5 separate regions of the Homo sapiens genome follow, and all the other regions are reported to be linked to region 1. Evidence: microRNA targets listed by miRTarBase, many of them from high-throughput screens and not tested one by one. Region 1 holds a microRNA gene; each other region holds the end of a gene's coding sequence.

Region 1 (4,000 bases):
GGGGGTGGGGGCATTAGTCTCAAGGAGAGGAAAGGGAGGGGCGGAATGGTGTAGAGCTCACTTACTGACAATCCCCTTCTTGTGTTTTATCAGCTTGGCCTCCACCACAGTGGCAAACTGCTCCAGAGCCCGTACTGCCTTAAGAGATGGGGACAGTGCGGGGCTCAGAGGGGCCATCGGCTGCAGTCCCTGATGCAGGCTCTCCTGGACCCCTGGCCACTTACCAGCTCGCCACTCCGACTCAACTCCGGGTGGACAAGTCCGCTGAGACTCAGGCCGCTGCCCAGCCCTGCCCGCCTGAGAGGAAGAGGGAGAATGACTGGTTAGTTGCCATACACCACCCTGCCCTCCCCTGGCTCTGGCCCTAAGCCTACCGCCTCAGCTGTTTGCCTGCCTCTCCTAGCAGGAGGCCAGCATTCCCAAAGGGATTCTTTAGAGCACTGCCAAGCCCAGAGAGCTCCTTTCCTTTGTCCTATGGGGGAAGAGGGTCCAGCAGTCAGGACTCACTGTCCTCCCCACCTCTACCCCCACCCAATTCTCTGTCTTACCATACAGCCCTGCAGAGCCACAAACAGCCGAAGAATGTCATTTGTCCCCTCAAAGATCCGGAAGATGCGAAGATCTCGGAGCACACGCTCTACTCCAGGTTCCTAGCACAGGGCCACACAAATTATATGCCCGTGCTGAGATGTGCCTACCCACCCCTGGCCCAGCCGAGGCTCTGCAGAAGACCGTCCTGTACCTTCATGAAGCCCATACCCCCCATGATTTGGATGCATTCATCTGTCACCTTCCAGGCTGCCTCCTAGGGACAAAGAACAGATGAGACTGGTTTTGGGAGCTGAGCACCCAAACTGGACTCCCTCCCAGCATGCCTGGGACCTCACCGAGCCAAAGATTTTGCTGATGGCGGCCTCTATCTGGAAGTCCGTGGCTCCCTGGTCCATGTTAGCACTCACCATGTAAGCCATGGACTGAGGTTGCATAGTTGGGACATGGGAAGGAAAATTGCAAAGGGCTTTGTCAGACTTGGCCTCATCACCCAGATCTCCAAGATAAGGGCTGACCTAGCTTGTCAGGTCAGGCAGATACTTGTTCTGGGTCAGTTCATCAGGTGCTTCCAGGTATTTGTTTTCTTAAAAGGGGTGGATGTAAGGGATGAGGTAGAATTAACTTCTGGTACTGCTGGCAGGCACCTGAGCAGAACATCATTGCTGTCTCTCTTCGCAGAAGCTGAGCTGACTATGCCTCCCCGCATCCCCTAGGGCATTGGTGTAAAGCTGGAGACCCACTGCCCCAGGTGCTGCTGGGGGTTGTAGTCTGACCCGACTGGGAAGAAAGCCCCAGGGCTCCAGGGAGAGGGGCTTGGGAGGCCCTCACCTCAGTTACATACTGCAGCATAACCATCCGTGCCAGCTTCTCCTGGATCAGCCCAAAGTTGTGAATTTTCTCCCCAAACTGGGTACGATTAGTGGCATGATCTACCTGGAAGAGGGTCCACACATCCCGCTGTGGTTCAGTGTGGTTCTGCAGTCTCCCTAGGAGAGGGGCTGGGCTTGCGCCAGAGGGATGGGTTTTGCATACAACCAGAGTTCAGTCTACGCTGGATGGAGACCTAAGCTAGCAAGTCGGGCTGCTGGTAGGGGAGGAGTTTCTAGTGTAGGGAGTGCCTGCAAGTGATCAGGGACACATGGCAAGGGGGACAGTGAGACTTCTGTTTGGGTTACCTAGGGACTCGGGCAGGGTACTCACCGCCTTAGCAATGATGCCTCTCATGGTACCTGCCAGGGCCGCAGCCATGCCAAACCTTCCATTGTTGAGGATGTGCATGGCAACCTTGAAGCCACTCCCAACCTCACCCAGCACGTTCTCCGATGGCACCCGTACTCCATCAAAGAACACCTCTGCTGTGTTTGAAGCCTTGATGCCCATCTTCTTCTCAGGGGGCCCACTGTGTCAGGGCAGTGTGGGAAAGCAGAGGTGTGTTCAACAGGTTGTCACTGGGGGAAAAACTGCTCCTTCGCTCCTTATGCACCAGGGAGGAATGACGACCACTAGACTATTAGAGGCTACAGCCACCACTTCCCCTCAGGCCCTGAGGGCTAAGGAGGCCTGGCTATGTCCTATTTTGTGTTGGACTTGGTTGCTGGAGCCAAAACTTTAGCTCAGTTGCATACATATTAGTCCCAAAGGCCACATTCAGTCCACCTGCTTTGGCTTTTGCACACGTCCCCAGGGTGACTTGCAACAGCCATCTGCCCAGGAGCCCAGTCCTGCCCCTCAGTCCTAAGCTCCCCCAACCCAAATTCACTCACTGGGTAATGCCCCCGAAGCCCCTCTCCACCACAAAAGCTGTGATCTTCTCCTTCACGGCTCCTGTGGCTGGATCTGTAACTGGTGTCTTGGCAAAGACCGTGAAGATGTCTGCTAGGCCCCCATTACTGTGGAAGAATGGGATATTCAGGGCGTGGAGGACGGGGAGCAGTGGGGCCTGGAATTGGGCGGAGGAGAAGGGGAGAAATGGGAGGCAGGTTGCCTGATCCAAAGCTTGCTTCCATTGAGGGTATAGTATTTTCCACAGGGGCTGGGCACAGCAGAGGTTCGGATGGAGGCTGCATCTGACCCGCTTGAGGGCTCGGTTAGACAGAAAGCGGCCACAGTCTCCCCTGTTGGGGAGAGAGCTACTTTACCCCAAGTTCTGATGAGCTTCAAAGTCCCCTCGGCCCACTTCCCCATCCCTCCAGCAGGCAGTTCCCCCTTAACACCTGGGAGTATCCAGTTCTTTTGCATGTCCCAACCAGCACACTGTGATGCCTCCCCAAAACCTTCCCCCAACTGAAATGCTCAGCCATCTGATAATCTAAGTGCCAACTGGCCTAATCTGTGCCAAGCCCAGTGTGCCCCCCAATCCCTGGCTCTCCTAGGGTTGCCTCACCAGATGCCAGCTTGGGGAGGTATTTTTCTTTCTGGGCCTTTGTGCCAAAGAGCAGGATGCCTTTGAAACCGATGCTCTGATGGGCCCCCAGGGTAATGCCCACGCCAAGGTCATGCATGCCCACGATCTCCACCAAACGGGCGTACTGGAGGGGAAGCAGGAATCTGGGGTTGTCACTGGCTGCAGGGGGACCTGACCTTAACAGGAGAGTGTGGGCAACAGGGCAGTTCCTGACCTAGGGCAGTTCCTGACCTAGGGCAGTGCCTGACCTGGGCCATCCCCAGTGTGTAGAAAAGAAGTGGGGTGTGCAAAGGGCACAGCAGAGAATGCTGGTCTGTCTTAGGTCTAGGTAGGAGGGTGACTTGCTACTAGTCAGTCTATTGTTAGGCAATCCCCAACTTAGAGATTTGTAAGGACTTGGGAACCAGGGTGAGGCCCATGGCTCAGGCCTAGGGGACTGCATGTAAATTGTGTTATGTTTGGACAGTTAACATCCATCCCACAGGCACCCAGGGCAGGTGCTTAGAAGAGACCTTAGCCCTAGTCTCTAGGTCTATGGCAAAAGAGCTGAGTCTGCCAAGCTGGGGTATGGCATACTGGGATGTGGCGATAGGGCGCCCTCACCTGGGTGTTGCAAAGGCCCACACCACCCAGCTCACTGGGCACTTGCAGACCAAAGGCCCCCAGCTCCTTGAGGCCCTGCCAAGTGGTCTCCTCCACCATCTCCAGAGCGTCATTCTTGGCGGGATCGTTCACTTCCTGGGGAAGGCACAGGATCCCACATCCAGGCTCCTTTTGAGCTTAACATCTCCAAACACCTCACCAGGGACCAAGCCCCGAGTCATTCCTTACCTCGAAGAAACGGGACACAGGCTCCACCAGCTCTTTAAGAAACTGTGTCTGCTCTTCGTTGAGCACTGCAGAGGGTGGGGGACAGGCTGGTCAGGCCAGGCTGGCAGGGGAAACCACCCTGGCCCCACCCAGCTCTGATTATCCCTTCCCTTACCGGACGGGTATGGGAACACCTGATCTGTGGTGAGCTGGCCTTTGAACATTCCCACAGCA
Region 2 (4,142 bases), not on the chromosome of region 1:
TCATCCAGCCTGGCCTATAGTAGGTATCAGTAAATCTCTCTTGACTTAAGTAGATGCTGTTAGGTCCACCTTACAGATAAAGAAACTGAGGAATGAAGAGGCTGGGCCCACAACAAGGAGATGGCCAGGCAGGATTTGAACCCAGGCAATCTGGCCCAGAATGCCCTCCCCTCACATGCCACACTCTGCTGCCTAGAGCATGGAGGTGGCATACGCTGGGGTCTGTGCCTTGAGCCTCACGGAGAGGGGCCCAACTGAGGACTCGCCCTCCCCCTCCAGGGTACAGAAGTGCAGGTGGATGACATCAAGCGGGTCTACTCACTCTTCCTGGACGAGTCCCGCTCCACGCAGTACATGAAGGAGTACCAGGACGCCTTCCTCTTCAACGAACTCAGTAAGAATCCCCACCCCGCACCTGCACTGCCAGAGCCAACCTCAGAGGGAGGAAGAGGGAGCTCGGCGTAGAAGGCTCAGGCCCTGCCACCTGGGCGACACTGACCATGTGGCCTTCCTTCTCCCCACAGAAGGCGAGACCATGGACACCTCCTGAGTTGGATGTCATCCCCCGACCCCACCCTGTTTTCCACCAGAGTTCTGACACTGTGACTCTGTATAAAATGGTTGGGAAGCTGCACCCACCCTGTGTATGTGTGGTTGCCCTGAGCCCACAGAAAGACACCTCCAGAGTGCGGATTGAGAAGCCTTTATTGTGGGAGGATCGGGGTGTCAGGGCTCCAGGAGTCGGGATGGACTTGGAAGGCTGCGGGGAGGGTCTTTAGAGGAAGAGGAGGCCTGAGAGTTGGGGGTGGTCACAGGTCAAGGGGTGGTCTTTGGGACCCCCACAGTCAGAGGTGCTGCGGCGGCAGGGTCCACAGCGACAGCTGAGAGCCACAGGGAAGGAGACCACGGGGTCCACACCACGCGGGCAGCCAGGGAGCCGGATGGACTCGAAGCGCACATCACGGTAGGTGCACACCACCTGAGGCAGGGGCGGCAGGACCGCCTGCAGCACGCGCATCTGGAGGCCGTGTGAGTGGGGGAATGAGCATGTGCCTGAGGCCAGCGCCTCAGCTGAGCTCCCAAGCTGACCCCACAGGTCCTGGACTCAGGAGCCCAGGAAGCCCTCTGTTCCTGCCTTCCCACACCCCATTCCCCAACCGCAGGCCAGAGAGGCAGACCACCCTTCCTCCCCCGCTGCCTCTGTGGGTCTGGCCCTGAGGTGGCAGCATCTGCCCCTGGCCCCAGGCAGCTCACCATGGTGGGGCAGTAGCCGGCACAGATGGTGGTGTTGACGGTGATGCACACTGGGCAGCCCTCCTTCTCGACAGCCAGGATGGCATTGATGGGGTGGCACCATGGCCGAAGCGGCTCCCTGGATGCCCATGCCCCGCCCATGCTCAGCAGCAGCAACAGCAGCAGCCCCTGGGACAAGGACACTGCTTCACCCAGGTCTGAGACCGCAGCCCCGAGTCCTGGCCTTCCCATCCCGCGTGGTACACCACCCACAAAGACCCAGAGACCCTTCCCGGCATCTCCTATTCAGGACCCACCACCCGGACACCTGCCTTTCAGAGCCCACCCCACAGCCCAGAGGACCTGAGATGCCCCAACATTTCAGATCCCCACCCTCAGGAACTGCCCCACCTGAAGCTTACTGGGGGTCATGCCCCTCCAGAAAGAGGCCTCCTTCCACAGCTCACACGGGTCTGCCCCTTCTCATGCCAGTGATGGCCTGGAAGGAGGTGGAAGGTGCCCAGGGGCCCTGTAGTCTTACCTGGAGCATCTCCATCCTTGGTGCATCCCCTGCCTCGTGTATCTGGCTATATACCTCGGGGTTGTGGGGGCGGCAAGGCCACCAGGAGGTGATAGGATGCTGGGGTAACCTGGACACTAATCCCCCCGGGGGCGAGAGGTGCACATGGCCAGGGAGGCGCAGGAGTGGCTCAGCAGAGCGCCCCAGCCCTCTCCCCTCAGTGGTCTAGCGCCAGAGGTGAGGCAGAGACCACGGTGAAGTGACCTCAGAGACCCAGTTGTCGAGTGCTAGGGACTAGTCGAGCCTGGAGGCACAGGGAGTAGGGTGTAGGAAGGCCTGCCTCTGCCAATTGTGGGGTCTTGGGAGCCAGGAGGAGGCCATGACCCGAGAAAGGTGCTGGACTGAAGCCTCAACCCTCCACTTGAGGCTTTCCTGCACCACAGTCCAACCTAACAGGAGGGGCGCTGCTTCGGACTTAGCTTCTGCCCAGTGAGAGAGGGTCTCCCCGTGACTGTGCTGCCAGGGAAGCCACTTGACCCAGATGCCCCCAAGGAGGGATTAAGCCCGAGCCCCACCTCTCCCTTAGGGACCTCCGCCCACCCTACCCTCAAGCCAGGATGCCCGGAGCGTCCCCGGAAGTGGGTGTGGTTCAGGTGATTTAACTCATTATTTAATACGCCCGCAGGGTGCGTGTCTTGCCCCCGGGGCCACAGCCTGCAAGGACATTATCTGGACTTAGTCCCCTCTCCGTGATGCCGCAGCTGAGTGGGTGTCTGGGCTAGTCCCGCCCCCACGTTGCCAATAGACGTAATGAGTGCGACTCAGGCTGGGTCCGGAACCCTTCCTAGTGAGCGGAGGTCCCGAGCTCCGCTCGGCAGCGCGGCCCTGGGGGCGGGTCTGGGGTGGGGCTGGCCCTGACGGCTCACACCAGCGCCGGCTTCAAGCTGCCATAGCTGGAGTTCTCGGTACTGTAGGCTTTCGGCACGCTGTAGATGCCCCGCAGGGGCTTCCAGTGCGGGCCGCCCCAGGGCGCCTCCAGCGGGCAGAAGCGGTCGAGCCGCCGGAGCGGGTGCAGCAGGGGGCTGTAGGACTCCTGAGCCAGAGACAGGGCTCCCCGGTGCGGCATGGCCGAGGTCACCGGGCTGACGCGCGGCACGCGGACCCGCGGTGGTCGGGGCGGCCGGGAGGAGCGCGGACAGGGCGGCCGCTGCGGGCCGTGGCTCCAGACCTGGGGCGTCTCTTCGAAGCTCCAGTAGGTCAGGGAGTCCTTGCGGGGGTATCCGGACAGCTCCGTCCTGTGGGAGCAGGGCGGGATGGTGAGGATACAGCTGGATCCTTGGGGACGAGTTTCAGACCTCGGGATCTAAGGAGTCTGCACATTCAAACTCCTGCATTTCCAGGCGAGCACCCCTTAGGAAGGACGCGACCCGGCACGCGTTGCCTGCGTTCCTGGGTCCTCGAGGTACTTAACGTCCTGGAAACTGAGCTTTCGCATCCTAGGGAAGTAAAAGGGGACTTTCGCTTCCTTGGGAAGGAGTATCTGGGGGCTCAAGTACCGAAGGAGGCCCTGCCCTCAGATCCGGAATCCCCTCGAGCCGCTGTGCAGGCTTCCTGTCCCTACCGCGGTTCCTGAGAGGTGACACTAAGGACTCCTGGGTGCTTAAAAAAAAAAGGGAGGGGCTGAGGCCTGAACTTTGGTTCTTGCTGCTACAGAAGTCGAGGCTGAGACCACCGGCTCAGGGAATGGGAGCCAGCCCAGGGGCTCGGCGTGCACCGGCCACGGCGGGGGCTGTGCAGGAGGCGGTGCCGAGCGAGAGCCCGGCTTACTTGGGATAGAACCGAAAGTCCCGCGCCGAGGTGGTCAGATAGAGCTGGCGGCGGTCCAGGACGCCCCGGTCGGATACTGTGAAAGGCCGGCCAGACAGCTCGGGGTTCTTCGTCCAGGCAATTAGAGCCTGAGCAAGATTGGGGGAGGAGGCATACCCAAGACATAGATTTCATACCCCATCCCAAGCCCTGGGTCCCGAGTTCAGAATCCCTCTCCTTCGGCCTCGACAGCCATGACGGCCACGGCCCTCACACCCCGCCCCAGGGTTAGAGCCCTTCCTGCCACCCACGCCAGGGAACTTCAGCTTCCTTTCTCATACCCGAACCCTTCCCAGCCTCACCTCCCTAAATCCAAGCACCTTCTGCTGTTCAAGGAACTCAAACCCAAGCCCCCAGCCACCAAAAACAACCTCCCTGGTTCCGCTCTGTCTTAAACCGTCTTGGTGTGGCCACTGGAGCTGAGCTGCATCTTGGGCAGCAACTCCAAGTTACCTCTCCCAACTCCCACCTGACCCCGTCTCAGAATATTCTAGTCTCCTCCCCACCCACAGCCCGCCGTCTA
Region 3 (4,142 bases), not on the chromosome of region 1:
GAGTTGGGAGATAGTCTCCTGCCGTCTTGACTCTACTTTGGCATTGGAGTTAGTGTCAAAGGGAAGGAATCCAGAAACCACCAGTAGGGTAGAAAGTGGGGAGGGGGAGTGGAATAGAAATGAATGATGAGGACATATGTGGGTCCCTCATCTTGGAGTGCAACAAAGAGCAAATGGTTAGCTCTAACGTTAAATCTGAGTGGCTCTCAAATGTTTTCTTAACAGATGGCATCTGAGCGAGAAGGCTCTGGAAGTTCTGGCACTGGGGAACAAAAGGAAGATCAAAAGGAGGAAAAACAGTAATAATAGCAGAAATTTTGAAGCCAGAAGGACAACATATGAAGCTTAGGAGTGAAGAGACTTCCTGAGCAGAAATGGGCGAACTTCAGTCTTTTTACTGTGTTTTTGCAGTATTCTATATATAATTTCCTTAATTTGTAAATTTAGTGACCATTAGCTAGTGATCATTTAATGGACAGTGATTCTAACAGTATAAAGTTCACAATATTCTATGTCCCTAGCCTGTCATTTTTCAGCTGCATGTAAAAGGAGGTAGGATGAATTGATCATTATAAAGATTTAACTATTTTATGCTGAAGTGACCATATTTTCAAGGGGTGAAACCATCTCGCACACAGCAATGAAGGTAGTCATCCATAGACTTGAAATGAGACCACATATGGGGATGAGATCCTTCTAGTTAGCCTAGTACTGCTGTACTGGCCTGTATGTACATGGGGTCCTTCAACTGAGGCCTTGCAAGTCAAGCTGGCTGTGCCATGTTTGTAGATGGGGCAGAGGAATCTAGAACAATGGGAAACTTAGCTATTTATATTAGGTACAGCTATTAAAACAAGGTAGGAATGAGGCTAGACCTTTAACTTCCCTAAGGCATACTTTTCTAGCTACCTTCTGCCCTGTGTCTGGCACCTACATCCTTGATGATTGTTCTCTTACCCATTCTGGAATTTTTTTTTTTTTAAATAAATACAGAAAGCATCTTGATCTCTTGTTTGTGAGGGGTGATGCCCTGAGATTTAGCTTCAAGAATATGCCATGGCTCATGCTTCCCATATTTCCCAAAGAGGGAAATACAGGATTTGCTAACACTGGTTAAAAATGCAAATTCAAGATTTGGAAGGGCTGTTATAATGAAATAATGAGCAGTATCAGCATGTGCAAATCTTGTTTGAAGGATTTTATTTTCTCCCCTTAGACCTTTGGTACATTTAGAATCTTGAAAGTTTCTAGATCTCTAACATGAAAGTTTCTAGATCTCTAACATGAAAGTTTTTAGATCTCTAACATGAAAACCAAGGTGGCTATTTTCAGGTTGCTTTCAGCTCCAAGTAGAAATAACCAGAATTGGCTTACATTAAAGAAACTGCATCTAGAAATAAGTCCTAAGATACTATTTCTATGGCTCAAAAATAAAAGGAACCCAGATTTCTTTCCCTATTTCTGCTTTTCTGTCCTCAGTGTACTGGCTTGTCCCAAATTCTCTGATGTAGTTCTAATAATTATCATGTGCTGACAACCTGAGCAGAAAGGCAACTACATCTTTATTCAATGTTAAGATTTCCCAAAAGTCTTCCAGCACATTTCCCTTATGTTTCATGGATGAATGTCATATGCCATGTTCAAAAGAGTCTGTTATCAAGATGGGCTTAGAATATCAGACACAATGGCTCCTTTTATAATGTTTTGTAATATGTAGAAATGAGATTACTGTATTTCCAAAAATCAGTATAAGAAATCAATTTAATTTGCAAGTATGAAGGAAGTGATTTAGACAACATTTTTGGAAGATTCAGTGCTTGTTAACACCCATGTAAAAGATTCTTGGGATTCGTGAAAAATTCTAGGCTCAGGTTTCCAACCACATGAACACTCAATGGGAACATTGTAGGATTATGAAGGATTGTTATATGGTGTGTTGGAAAATAACTTTTAGCATTTTTGGTTGGCCCTTGCCCACTGCCTCTACTGTCTCCTAAAGATAACTTTAAAAGCCCTCCAGGATTTCCAAAGTACTCCAGTTGAGAACTACTGGCTTAATGCTAGTCAAGATTCATCCTTGGGATCAGAGAGAGGAGCCAAATGCCCAAGCAAAATATATATTTGAGTTCTATTAGGAGGGAGAAGTTGCTTGGGTATGGGTGGACACAGTATTTCAGTCACCTATCAGTAAAGCTAATAGCATAAATAGCAAGAAGGTATATGGAGATTTCCTACAGCCAATAGGATATATATCTAGAATAAGATTTACTGTAAGAAAGAAACTGGCTCACAATTATGGAACCGAGGTCCCACCCACAGTCCACTGCTGGGAAAGCTGTTGGGGTAAAATTTCAGTGACCAGGAACACAGTGGTGTCCTAGTCCGAGGTTAGAAGAATATGGATGTCTTAGCTCTGGCAGTTCTATATAGGCCCTTAACTGATTAGATGATGTCCACTCACATCAAAGCAGAGCAATCTCCAATTCAATACTAATCTCTTCTGGAGAGAGACAAATGTTTAACCCGTTAAATGGCATCAATGGCTAAACTGACACATAAAATTAACTATCACAAAAGGCAAAAAGAAATGATTGGTTTTATTCTTTAGTAGAGCCTCCCTTTAGTGATTGTAAGTACTTGCTTAGGTCCCAAGAAGAACTTACGGTATCCCTCTTACACCAACTTACTGTTTTTGGTTTTTTGTGTTTTGTTTGTTCTTTTGGTTTTTGTTTTGAGATGGAGTCTTGCTCTGTTGCCCAGGCTGGATTGCAGTGGTGTGATCTCAGCTCACTGCAACCTCAACCTCTGCCTCCTGGGTTCTAGCAATTCTCCCACCTCAGCCTCTTGAGTAGCTGGTACTACAGGTGCGCACCACCACACCCAGCTAATTTTTTTTTTTTTTTTTTTGAGACAGTCTTGTCGCCCAGGCCGGAGTGCAGTGGTGCGATCTCAGCTCACTGCAACCTCCACCTCCCAGGTTCAAGCCGATTCTCCTGCCTCAGCCTCCCTAGTAGCTGGGATTACAGGCACCCTGCCACCACACCCAGCTAATTTTGGATTTTTAGTAGAGACGGGATTTCACCACGTTGTCCAGGCTGGTCTTGAACTTCTGACCTCAAGTGATCCACTCCCCTCGGCCTCCCAAAGTGCTGGGATTACAGGCTTGAGTCACTGTGCCCGGTCTAATTTTTGTACTTTCAGTAGACACGGGGTTTTGCCATGTTGGCTAGGCTGGTCTCAAGCTCCTGACCTCAGGTGATCCATCGCACCCAGCCTCCTTTTTTTATGTTGTTTTTTGAGACAGGGTCTTGCTGTCACCCAGGCTATAGTGCAGTGGTGCATTCATAGCTCACTGCAACCTCGAACTCCTGGGCTCAAGCACTCCTCCTGCCTTAGCCTCCCAAGTAGTTAGGACTACAGGTGCACACCACCACACCTGGCTCACCTCTCGAGCTCAAGTGAGCCTCTCACCTCAGCCTATGGAGTGGTTGGGACCACAGGTGCAAGCTACCGTGCCAGGCTATTTTTTTTTTTTTTTTTTTTTTTTTGAGGGGGGGAGAGACAGGATCTCACACTCCTGACCTCAAGCAATCTTCCCACCTCAGCCTCCCAAAGTGGTGGGATGACAAGCATGAGACACGGTGCCCAGCCTGATTATTTGTGTTGAGTGAGGTATACATTATCAGTAGAAATACTACATACATGTGTACATAATGTGTCAATTCTCAGGGAAATCAAGACATTCCATTTCTTTGATCCACGTAACATTTATAGTAGTGACTACAAGCAAGATGGAGCAGCAGAAATAAAAGCAAGTTCTTACAAACTGCATGAGAAGATTGGGTATGAAGAAACAATTCAAATTTTGGAAATAACCAATATTCAAGAGACCCTTCACCATTTCAGATACCATTGCAACTCTATTCTCCAGTCATAAGGCCAGGTTTTTTTGTTTTGTTTTTGTTTTGAGACAGAGTCTCTCTCTGTCACCCAGGCTGGAGTGCAGTGGCATGATCTCAGCTCACTGCAGCCTCCATCTCCCGGATTCAAGCGATTTTCCTGCCTCAGCCTCCTGAGTAGCTGGGATTACAGGTGCATGCCACCACACCCGGCTAAGTTTTGAATTTTTAGTAGAGATGGGG
Region 4 (4,142 bases), not on the chromosome of region 1:
CAGGGCGGCGACGCTCACCCTGCATTCGAGCGCCCGGGGCTCCGGCTCGCTGCTCCCGCCTCCGGCTCCGGCTGCGGTTCCCGCGCCCCCGGGCCGAGCGCAGGCCGCCGAGGGCCGCGGGGGTGGCTGGCGGCGGAGCGGCCCGCGGGCCGGGGCATGCTGGCGGCGGCCACCGGCGGCCGGCGCGCTCCGCTAGGTGGGCTCGGCCCCGCCGCCCCTCCCTCCCCTAGGCGCCGCCGCCGCCGCCGCGCTTCGCTCAGCTCCCGCCGCTCCGCTGCTGCGCCGGGCGGCCGGGGGCGGGGGGCGGAGCAGGGCGCATGTCTCCGCCGGGGCCTCCGCACCGCCCCTCGGCCCGCCCCGCCCCCGCCCGCTCAGAGGCGCGGCCGTCTGTCGGTCTGTCAGCCCGTCCGTCCTTCCGTCAGTCCGTCCGTACGCAGCCCACCCGTGTCCCCGCGTCCGCCCGCGGCCGGCCCGAGCCTCCCTGGGCTGGTGGCGCCTCCTGACAGCGCCGCGCCCCTGGCTCCCAGCTCGGCTCGGTGCACACTCCGGACGCCGCCTTCGGACGCCGGGGCAAGACCCAGGCCCGGAGCTCTGGGGGCCCGGGGGCCAGAGGGAGCTGGGGCAGGAATGGACACTGAGAACCTGGGGCCAGGGCTGGGGCTCAGGGAGACCTTCCTGGAGGAAGCCGCATCTAAGATGAACAATCGGGGCGGGGCGTGGAGAGGACAAGGGACGCATGGCCAGCGGCTTCTAGGAACCGGGAATCCAGTCTGAAGCAGGGGCAGCGAGGGGCAAGGTTGGGCCAGTTACGGATTCACGCTGCTCCCCGGGCCTGGGGGGTCCACTGAGGGAATAAAGTGCACGGGCCACCGGGCTGCCGAGTGGTCCCCGCCACCCCCACAGGCTCAGAAATTGTTCTCTCTGAAACTCTGAGCACCACCGCCCAGCCGGGAGAGGCCAGGGTCTGCAGCCCAGCGCCTGAAGCCTTCTCCTACTCCCCTCCTCCCCTCCTCCCATTCTTCCCGCCCCTCCGCCCCTCCCTCCCAAGCCCTCATGCTATCACCACTCCTCATAGAGCACAGGCTGTCACCCACAGACTGACAGCCTCAGCTGGCCCCATGCAGGCGGAAAGCCTCCTGCTTCTTGATGGGGGCCCTGGAGAGGACGCCTCCTGAGGATCGTGCCTGTCTTTTCTAGAAAGCACCTGACCACACACACAATGGGCACAAGGCCTCTGGGGCTGCCTGGCATAGTGTCCTTCCGTGCCTCTGGGACACATCCATGACTAGGCACCCCTGTGTCTGGAGGAAACTAGGCACCCGACCAGGAGGAGACCCAAACCAATTGCAGCCAAAACGGATGCTTGGAGCTTGCCCAGTCCGGGCAGGGCTGCTCCACAGCCTGCACCTGCCTAAACCGTCCCCACACCCCAGGTCCCTGAGCAGCTTTTAGGGGGCCCAGGATGGGTCTTAGGGTCCGTCCCATGAGACAAAAAGAGGAGTGTCTGTAGAGAAAGGCCCCGCAATAACGTGTGGGGCTGAGCAAGGGGGAATCTGGGGCCATGCACACCTATACTCCCTGTGGTTTCTCGGGCAGCCAGGGCCCTCAGTGTCCCCAGTGAGCCCTCTGTGGACAGGTTGGCTCCCCCTCCAGGTGGTCCTGGTTATAAATAGGCCACCAGCAGTGGGAGGCTGGCACAGGGCAGCTGTAATCAAGGGTGGTGTTTCTAAGTGTCTCGCCTGTGACTCGGGGTGAAACGGTAGAAACGCCACACTTAATTACATGGCCACCGAGAGCCATGCCGCTTAGAAACACCACGGTTAAGATTGCACACACAGCCATGGAGAGCCATGCCTCTGTCTGGGCCTGGCTCCCCTCTGCCAGCCCAGCTGACCCACTGCCTGGACCAGTGCCTCTGCCCGGCCTCAGCTGGCTCTAGGGCAGGTGGGAGATGGCCTCTGATGGCCGCCCCGGGGCCCTGGCTTATTTCGTGCTGTGCTGGGTTCTGCTGCAAAGTGCCCGGTGCCCCTGGGAGGCGGTTTTCAGGTGCCTGGTTTGCCCAAAGCCACACGGATGAGTGGCTGAGCCAGGACTGAACTAGGGAGTCTGATGCGGGGCCCAACTTCAAGTGAAGGGTGTGGGTGCTTTGGGGAACTGGTCCCCTCAGTGAGCCCCTGGGCTCAGGCACTGCTGTGGCCAGCCCTGGGCCTTCTGCTAGCTGGGAAGGGTGGCCTCCTCATTGCTCTGAACCCAGGGCACCATTCTGGCATGGGTCATGGGTGGAGCTGGGGGCCGAGGCTGGCTGAGGCCAGCCCCGGGGGGCCAAGGGGCATGGTGGCGTGGCAGAAGCTTCATGTGGCTGAGCTTGTCCCTCCCACCTCCAACCCCCTCCCAGACAGGAAATAACCCCGTCAGCCGTGACTGGGGCCCGGGACAGATTCCCAAGCTCTTGGCTGGTGTTTCTGCACATCTGGAGCCGAGTCCTCGCTCTCCAGGGGCCAGAGGGAGCCTTGTGCGAGGCCGCAGCTGTTGACGGGCCAGTCTTCTCCAGGCGGCAGGACAGATGTTGGGGCTTCAGGGACAGACTGAATTGGGAACATTCTCCCAGATGCCACTTCTGGGTGTGCTTGATTGGAGGGCCTCCTTTTCAGCCATGGATGCAGGTGGGGTCCTGGTCCCTGTAGTGGCCTTGGCTGGGCCAGATGCACAGATCAACCCTGCTACACCGATACCCTCACCACACACGTGCTCACAGATATGCAGACAGATGCACACGCACATGCACAGATATGTCAGTGACACGTATGCCCACAGCTTCACACCAACGGCACTGACACACATTCGTGCTGTCCCTCAGACCCCTGCCCTATAAGCCATCCCAGCAGACTCCTGCCTGAGTGGCTGGGGGAGTTTCCACGTCAGGCACAGAGTCCTGGCGCCAGCTGGGGGGCTCCTTCAGACAGGATTTTGGGGTGTCTAGGCAGTTTCTAGCAAGAGGCTGGGTCAGGGTGGGGCTCCCACACGCTGAGCCAGGCCACATTTGGCTCTTCCCACACCATCACCTCGCTGAGTCTTTCCCAGCAGCCCCACCCTGTTCATAGGAAAGCCACACAGGCTCAGAGCCGGCATCCTCTGCAAGCCAGACAGGGGGGTTGTGGGGTGCTGGCACTCCCACCAGGCAGCGTGGCCCTGAGCCCACATCCTCCCAGCATCTGGGCTGCCTATGAGGTCCAGGGAGCCAGGGTGTCTGGGGCCAGGACACCAAACCAGGGACCCACGGGAAATGGGCATTCATAGCCAGCAAGTCACCAGCCGGACACCAATCGGTGTGGCTGTGCCTGAGGTTCTAGGGTACATGCAGGTGCTGGTGCTGGGAGGGCTGAGACTGTCCACGGGAGCCCCAATGTCCCACACCCCCTGGGAAAGCAGCCCCCCCAAGACAAATGACCACCCAGGACACGTGGGTCCAGCCAAGCAGCAGCTTTATTAGTGGTGCTGGGTTCTTCCCATACCCTACAGCGTGCTCGGAAGCATTCCCGAGGGTTTCTGCCCAACGCCTCCCGGCGCTCGGGACAACACTGTGTAGCATTGATACTGGAATGATATAAATAAAGCTTTGGTGTGTAGGTTTGCAGGAGAGAGTACAGGTTAACACTGTGATACGAAAACTTCAGACAACACCAGCTCTCAATGTGAATTGGGTTTTTGGCCAAGGGGGGAACTTCTAAGTGACTGGACACTGGGCCCGTTGCCATGGCTACTCGAGGCACCAGTGGCAGGAGGAGGGAGTCTAGGGCTGAGGCTCCGCGTGGCCCTGTCGCTTCGCCTTCATCTGCAGGTACCGCCCTTTGCCTTCCTCAAAGCGCTTCTTCTCGTCCTCGGTCTCGGGCTGTGGACCACACACAGAGACAGGCAGGTTAGGGTCACTGCAGAACCAGTGCCGTGGCCTTGTGACCTGGCCTGGGGCCCTGCCCCCCACCCGTGGGATCTGCCCCACCCCTGGTGCATGCTGAGTACCACGCCTCGGCCCCGCTGGCCTCCTGGGACTGCCGGGTAGCCCAGGCATGGGGCTCATGTCCCACCTCGCTGATGGGCCTATTGACTGGGCTGGGTATGTTCAGCCAAGATGCTTTGAGGGGCCG
Region 5 (4,142 bases), not on the chromosome of region 1:
GGACCAGAACAGTGTGGCCTGCATTGAGGAGAAGTGCTATGTGCTGACTTTTGCCGAGTACTGCAGGTAGGTGGTTCCCTGCACCCTCTGGCTGGCCTCTTCCCTCAGGCTCCCCAGGCATATTTGGGGCTGCTTGGAATTCCCCGAGAGGATCTCATTCTGCTCTCTACCTGATCTTACTCACTGAGCCTAATCTCCCAGAACTTACTTCCCTATTGCTTGCCTCTACCATCTGATATTTTTTGGAAGAAAGAAGAAAAATTGTGTTGCCACACTGAGGTAGAATGGTTGGAGCAGAGTTGGGGGGTAACATTACTGCTCTTGGAAAAAATTTAGGCGAATTGGCAGGCAAATGGAGAGAGGCCCTGGCAAGTGTGGTTCTCCAGTGACAGAGAAGATAGCCTGGTGGTTGGCAGAGCAGACATCATCCCTGGGATGGGTGGAGACAGTACCACCCCTTGGGGAGCTAGGATAGCCTAGCTCTCTGGGTCGGGTAGGGTAGGGTAGGGAAGGAATTGGTCTTCCTGCAAAAGTGGCTGGAGTAAAGACAGTGAATGGTATCTCTCTACAGGTTCTGTGCCATGGCCAAGCGCCGAGGTGAAGGCCTCCCCAGCCGAAAGACAGCACTGGTTCCCCCCTCTGCAGACTATTCCACCCCACCCCACCGCACAGTGCCAGAGGACACGGACCCTGAGCTGGTGTTCCTTTGCCGCCATGTCTATGACTTCCGCCACGGGCGCATCCTTAAGAACCCCCAGTAGCCTCCTCATGCCCATGCTGGGGCTACCCATGGGCAAGTGGGGCTCGGGGTAGGGGGCACTGCTTGAAGCACAGCACTTGGTTAGGGGGCCACAGAGGCCTAAGTTTGCTGGCCTGTGGTTTTCTTGGGGGGGAGGGCAGGGGCCCCTGTGGGTTCTGGGCTCCAGGGGAGGGAGCTGGGGAGGCCAGGGTATAAGAAAAGCATCAGAACTCTCAGCTTGGCCCAAGGTACCTTCTGTGGTTCCCCTGGGTGGAGATTTCCGAAAAGTAGTCTTCTCTGAGGCTGGGCCAAGCCTGAGGGAAATGGGGCCCTAGGAGGGTGGGGGCGGGAAGGAGGGGCAAGGTCTTTCAGGAACCAGACCCAACAGGCCCTTCTGTAGCCTCCCCCTTGCCCTCAAAGGGGGAGTGGGGGCCAGCTTTACCTCACCCACTGTGACCCGCCGCTTCCCCTTCAGCCTGGGACCAGGCTTTCCTAGATCCCAGCACAGCTCTGAGCTTGTTCCTTTGAGGCATAGAGAGCCAGAGTCTGGCTTCCAGAGCATTGACTTCCTCTTCCTAGACTTGAGGCCTTTTCTCTGGCTTTCCTCCTTTGCCCTGCAGTAGCAACTGGTGCTGGGACAAGTTGACCCACCTCTCACAGTCATGGGTGTGGCCCACTTGTGGGAGTCTCCTGTCCACCTCCCAGAGACGGCCACCCAGCGGGTCTGGCTTCCCAGAAAGTTAACTGATGATTGTGGGGTTTGTCATATCTGGGAGGGAAGATGGGTGCTGGGAGAGGGTTGGGGGCAGGGGGCAAGGAAAATTGCTACCTGATTTGTTGAAGATTTTTCCTCTTGCCTTACACATGGAGGTTCCAGGAAACCTCTTGCAGAACTTCACACGTGATTCTTCAAGCCACACCCACCTGAAATCAAACCAAAGGAGTGCTGTGGCTCCCCTTGCCCTGCCACCCTTTCCCTAGTCTTTTGTAGATTGCACTAATTTACATCCTAGCAAGAATCAACACTGTATCAGTCCACGGACCTGCTGAGCTGCAGCCACTTGCTCTAGGAGCTAAGGACTTGCATTTTCAGTTTGTTCCTGTTGCCCAGAGGCCCTGTTCTCACCTCATGCTGCTCCCCAGAGTAGACTAACAGGCTCAGTCCCCTGTTGTCCTTGTGGAGACTAGGCCTTGGCCCTGGCCCTGAGACTCTGTGAGGGGGCTGGAGCAGCCTGGTTATTTCCTATCTGTACCAAAGAGGAGTATGGTGGGAGAGGGAGTGGAGTGCAGTGTGGCTTGGGCCTGGTGCTGGGAACCTGCTAGCTGAGCACTTCCACAAGGGCATACCCCTGGGGGCAGGGGCTGGGGCTGAGAACTGCAGCCCTGGGTCTTCCCTTAGGGAGGAAGGGCAGATGAACCCAGCAGGCTTAGGAGGTGGCACTGGGTGAGGACAGCTGGGCAGGGGCTGCAGAGGGAGGTGGAAATGAACCCTGAGGGCTCCCCCAACTTGCCATGCCCTGTCCCTTAGTAGATGAGTTGCTCCTGATTGGTCATTGGGTTTGGGTGAGGCCTGGAGGCTTCAGAGGTGAATTTATGCTTGGGAAGCCTGATCCCAAACCTGAAGGGAAGGGACTTGGATCTCCTTATATTGAATAAGCTGTTTGGAGGAAGGTGTCTGTCTGGGAGGATGGGGCAGTAAATGAGGTTGGCAGAGTGGCAGTGGGGGCTCTGCAGAGCCAGCCTTGGAGCCTGCTCATTCTGGGCCCTTGCTGCCAAGGAGCCCAGCCTCACCTAGCAGGAAAGGAGATGAAGGCCCTCCTCCCAGGAGGTAGGGTCTTGGCTGCCCCGAACTTAAATGCTTTTGAAATCTCTTAGATGTGGAAATATTTTTTCGAACCTGAAAATGCAGCTGGTAGAATTTCAATGGAAGCATAATCCATGTAAAATATATTTTAGTTGATATTTTGTAAAATGCACTTTTTGTGTGTGTTGATCCTGGTTTCCCAGATCTGTATTTCAGTGTTTACAAGGGAGGAAGGACCTTTCCTCACCTCCCTTTTGACAGAGATTAGAAGTACTTCTTTAAGAAAAAAATAAATTTGAGAAATTGTATTGATTTAGAAAAGGATCGTTTCCTGTGTGTCCTGTCATCTTTTGGTGTGTGGGTGTGGAGAGACCCACTATTCTTATTTCAGAGGTCCCTCTTAACCCCTGTGGCATGGATGCTCACCAAGGCCAATGAGCAAAGAGGGCAGGGAAGCAGAGGGAAAAGAGAGTGAGGGAAGGAGACAGAGGGACTGGGAACTTGGAGTTGACTTCTTGATTTCATGGTGGCCACAGCTGCCTGCTTAGGTCTGTGTGAAATACTTCAGTTGCCAGCCCTCACCTGACCAGTGACCTGGAAATTGGTCCCCAAGTAGGTACATGGCAAAGATACCTTCTTATCACTGGCCTCATGCAGTGGCTCCTGCCTGTAATCCCAGTGCTTTGGGAGGCAGAGGCAGGAGGGTTACTTGAGCCTAGGAGTTTAAGACCAGCCTAGGCAACATAGACCATGTCTCTCGAAAAATTTAAAAATTAGCCCGGCATGTCAGTGCATGCCTATAGTCTCAGTCAGGAGGCTAAGGTAGGAGGATTGCTTGATCCCAAGAGCACGAGGCTGCAGTGAGCCGTGATCATACCACTGCAGCCTGGGTGACAGAGTGAGATCCTGTCTCAGAAAAGAAAAAAAAAGCATCCCTCCTCATCACCTTGGGTAACTGGCCAGCACTGTCCTAGGGCCTCAGTGTCTTGCAGCTGGTGCTTCTTGCTTGCTGAGGAAGGCCACATCATGGGGCCAAGGGTCTGCGGCCAGCTGACCCCTGCTTCAGCCCAGCCCTGGTCCCAGCCTGGAAGCCTCAGTGTTGACCATGTTCCAGGTGGGGCAGCTCTAAGGCCATAGAGGTTCCTGGGAGCCACAGCACCCCCCCGCCCCGCCTCCACTTCTGCATTTTGCTAAGGCATGGTGCATGTGGGCAGGAACATTTTTTCAGAATTTATTGGTGGCACAGACACCACCATGGATTTTTCTAGCTCTGCCTTCAGTGTGGTGTCCACAAGACTCCCTTGAGGCGAGTGGTAGCTTGTCCTTATCTTACAGACAAGAAATTGGTATGGAGATAAGTACCAGGCCCAAGGACTCCCCCTGCCTCACCCTGACTGCTAACACAGAAAACTACCCTGTAACACAGAAGGGAGCACATGTGGCCACATTATCAAAAGATTTTTAAAGGTCTAAGGCCTTTTTTTCCTCTCCTGGTTTAAAGGACATACTTACTGGAAAATATGATTTTAATAGAAAATCCTATCACCAGAAATGTATACCTTTAGGATTATTGGAAGCAAGGAGCAGTGTAGACAAGGC

Evidence for each region. The annotated mature microRNA hsa-miR-324-3p reads CCCACUGCCCCAGGUGCUGCUGG and lies in region 1 at 1,288-1,310, shown strand. An mRNA with a match to its seed (bases 2 to 7 or 8) in the 3' UTR can be bound and repressed. Matches are read on the target gene's strand: a 7mer-m8 pairs with bases 2 to 8, a 7mer-A1 pairs with bases 2 to 7 and ends in A, and an 8mer does both.
Region 2: miRTarBase lists RUVBL2 as a target of hsa-miR-324-3p. The part of its 3' UTR that is shown has no 7-base or 8-base seed match.
Region 3: the mRNA of HSPA9 is a reported target of hsa-miR-324-3p. The part of its 3' UTR that is shown has no 7-base or 8-base seed match.
Region 4: the mRNA of ACOT7 is a reported target of hsa-miR-324-3p. The part of its 3' UTR that is shown has no 7-base or 8-base seed match.
Region 5: the mRNA of BAHD1 is a reported target of hsa-miR-324-3p. Seed matches in the 3' UTR shown: 7mer-m8 at 2,456-2,462.

Annotation. Positions count from the first base shown.
Region 1 is chr17:7,220,618-7,224,617 of GRCh38, reverse strand. It overlaps MIR324 (microRNA 324), which reads left to right and starts at 1,239; the gene lies at 1,239-1,321. ACADVL (acyl-CoA dehydrogenase very long chain) reads right to left here. Exons shown (of 20, transcript NM_000018.4): 4 at 3,942-4,000; 5 at 3,788-3,852; 6 at 3,560-3,694; 7 at 2,936-3,080; 8 at 2,537-2,666; 9 at 2,316-2,441; 10 at 1,753-1,951; 11 at 1,381-1,485; 12 at 888-974; 13 at 743-805; 14 at 549-650; 15 at 375-472; 16 at 225-297; 17 at 66-138. RefSeq lists an enhancer at 3,781-4,000.
Region 2 is chr19:49,015,293-49,019,434 of GRCh38, forward strand. It overlaps RUVBL2 (RuvB like AAA ATPase 2), which reads left to right. Exons shown (of 15, transcript NM_006666.3): 14 at 280-394; 15 at 525-678. The coding sequence ends at 550. It overlaps LHB (luteinizing hormone subunit beta), which reads right to left and starts at 1,799. Exons shown (of 3, transcript NM_000894.3): 1 at 1,775-1,799; 2 at 1,255-1,422; 3 at 688-1,018. The coding sequence starts at 1,789. The coding sequence ends at 776. It overlaps SAXO3 (stabilizer of axonemal microtubules 3), which reads right to left. Exons shown (of 5, transcript NM_001396011.1): 4 at 3,581-3,708; 5 at 2,676-3,048. The coding sequence ends at 2,676. RefSeq lists enhancers at 2,520-2,814, 2,624-3,547 and a silencer at 2,791-2,980.
Region 3 is chr5:138,552,198-138,556,339 of GRCh38, reverse strand. It overlaps HSPA9 (heat shock protein family A (Hsp70) member 9), which reads left to right. Exons shown (of 17, transcript NM_004134.7): 17 at 226-2,584. The coding sequence ends at 303. Among named protein-coding and RNA genes, the nearest start is that of SNORD63B, 4.8 kb to the left of the region's middle.
Region 4 is chr1:6,260,807-6,264,948 of GRCh38, forward strand. ACOT7 (acyl-CoA thioesterase 7) reads right to left here. Exons shown (of 9, transcript NM_007274.4): 9 at 3,466-3,889. The coding sequence ends at 3,791. GPR153 (G protein-coupled receptor 153) reads right to left here and starts at 292. Exons shown (of 6, transcript NM_207370.4): 1 at 19-292. RefSeq lists silencers at 1-31, 212-531.
Region 5 is chr15:40,465,370-40,469,511 of GRCh38, forward strand. BAHD1 (bromo adjacent homology domain containing 1) reads left to right here. Exons shown (of 7, transcript NM_014952.5): 6 at 1-66; 7 at 572-2,867. The coding sequence ends at 761. Among named protein-coding and RNA genes, the nearest start is that of CHST14, 3.5 kb to the right of the region's middle.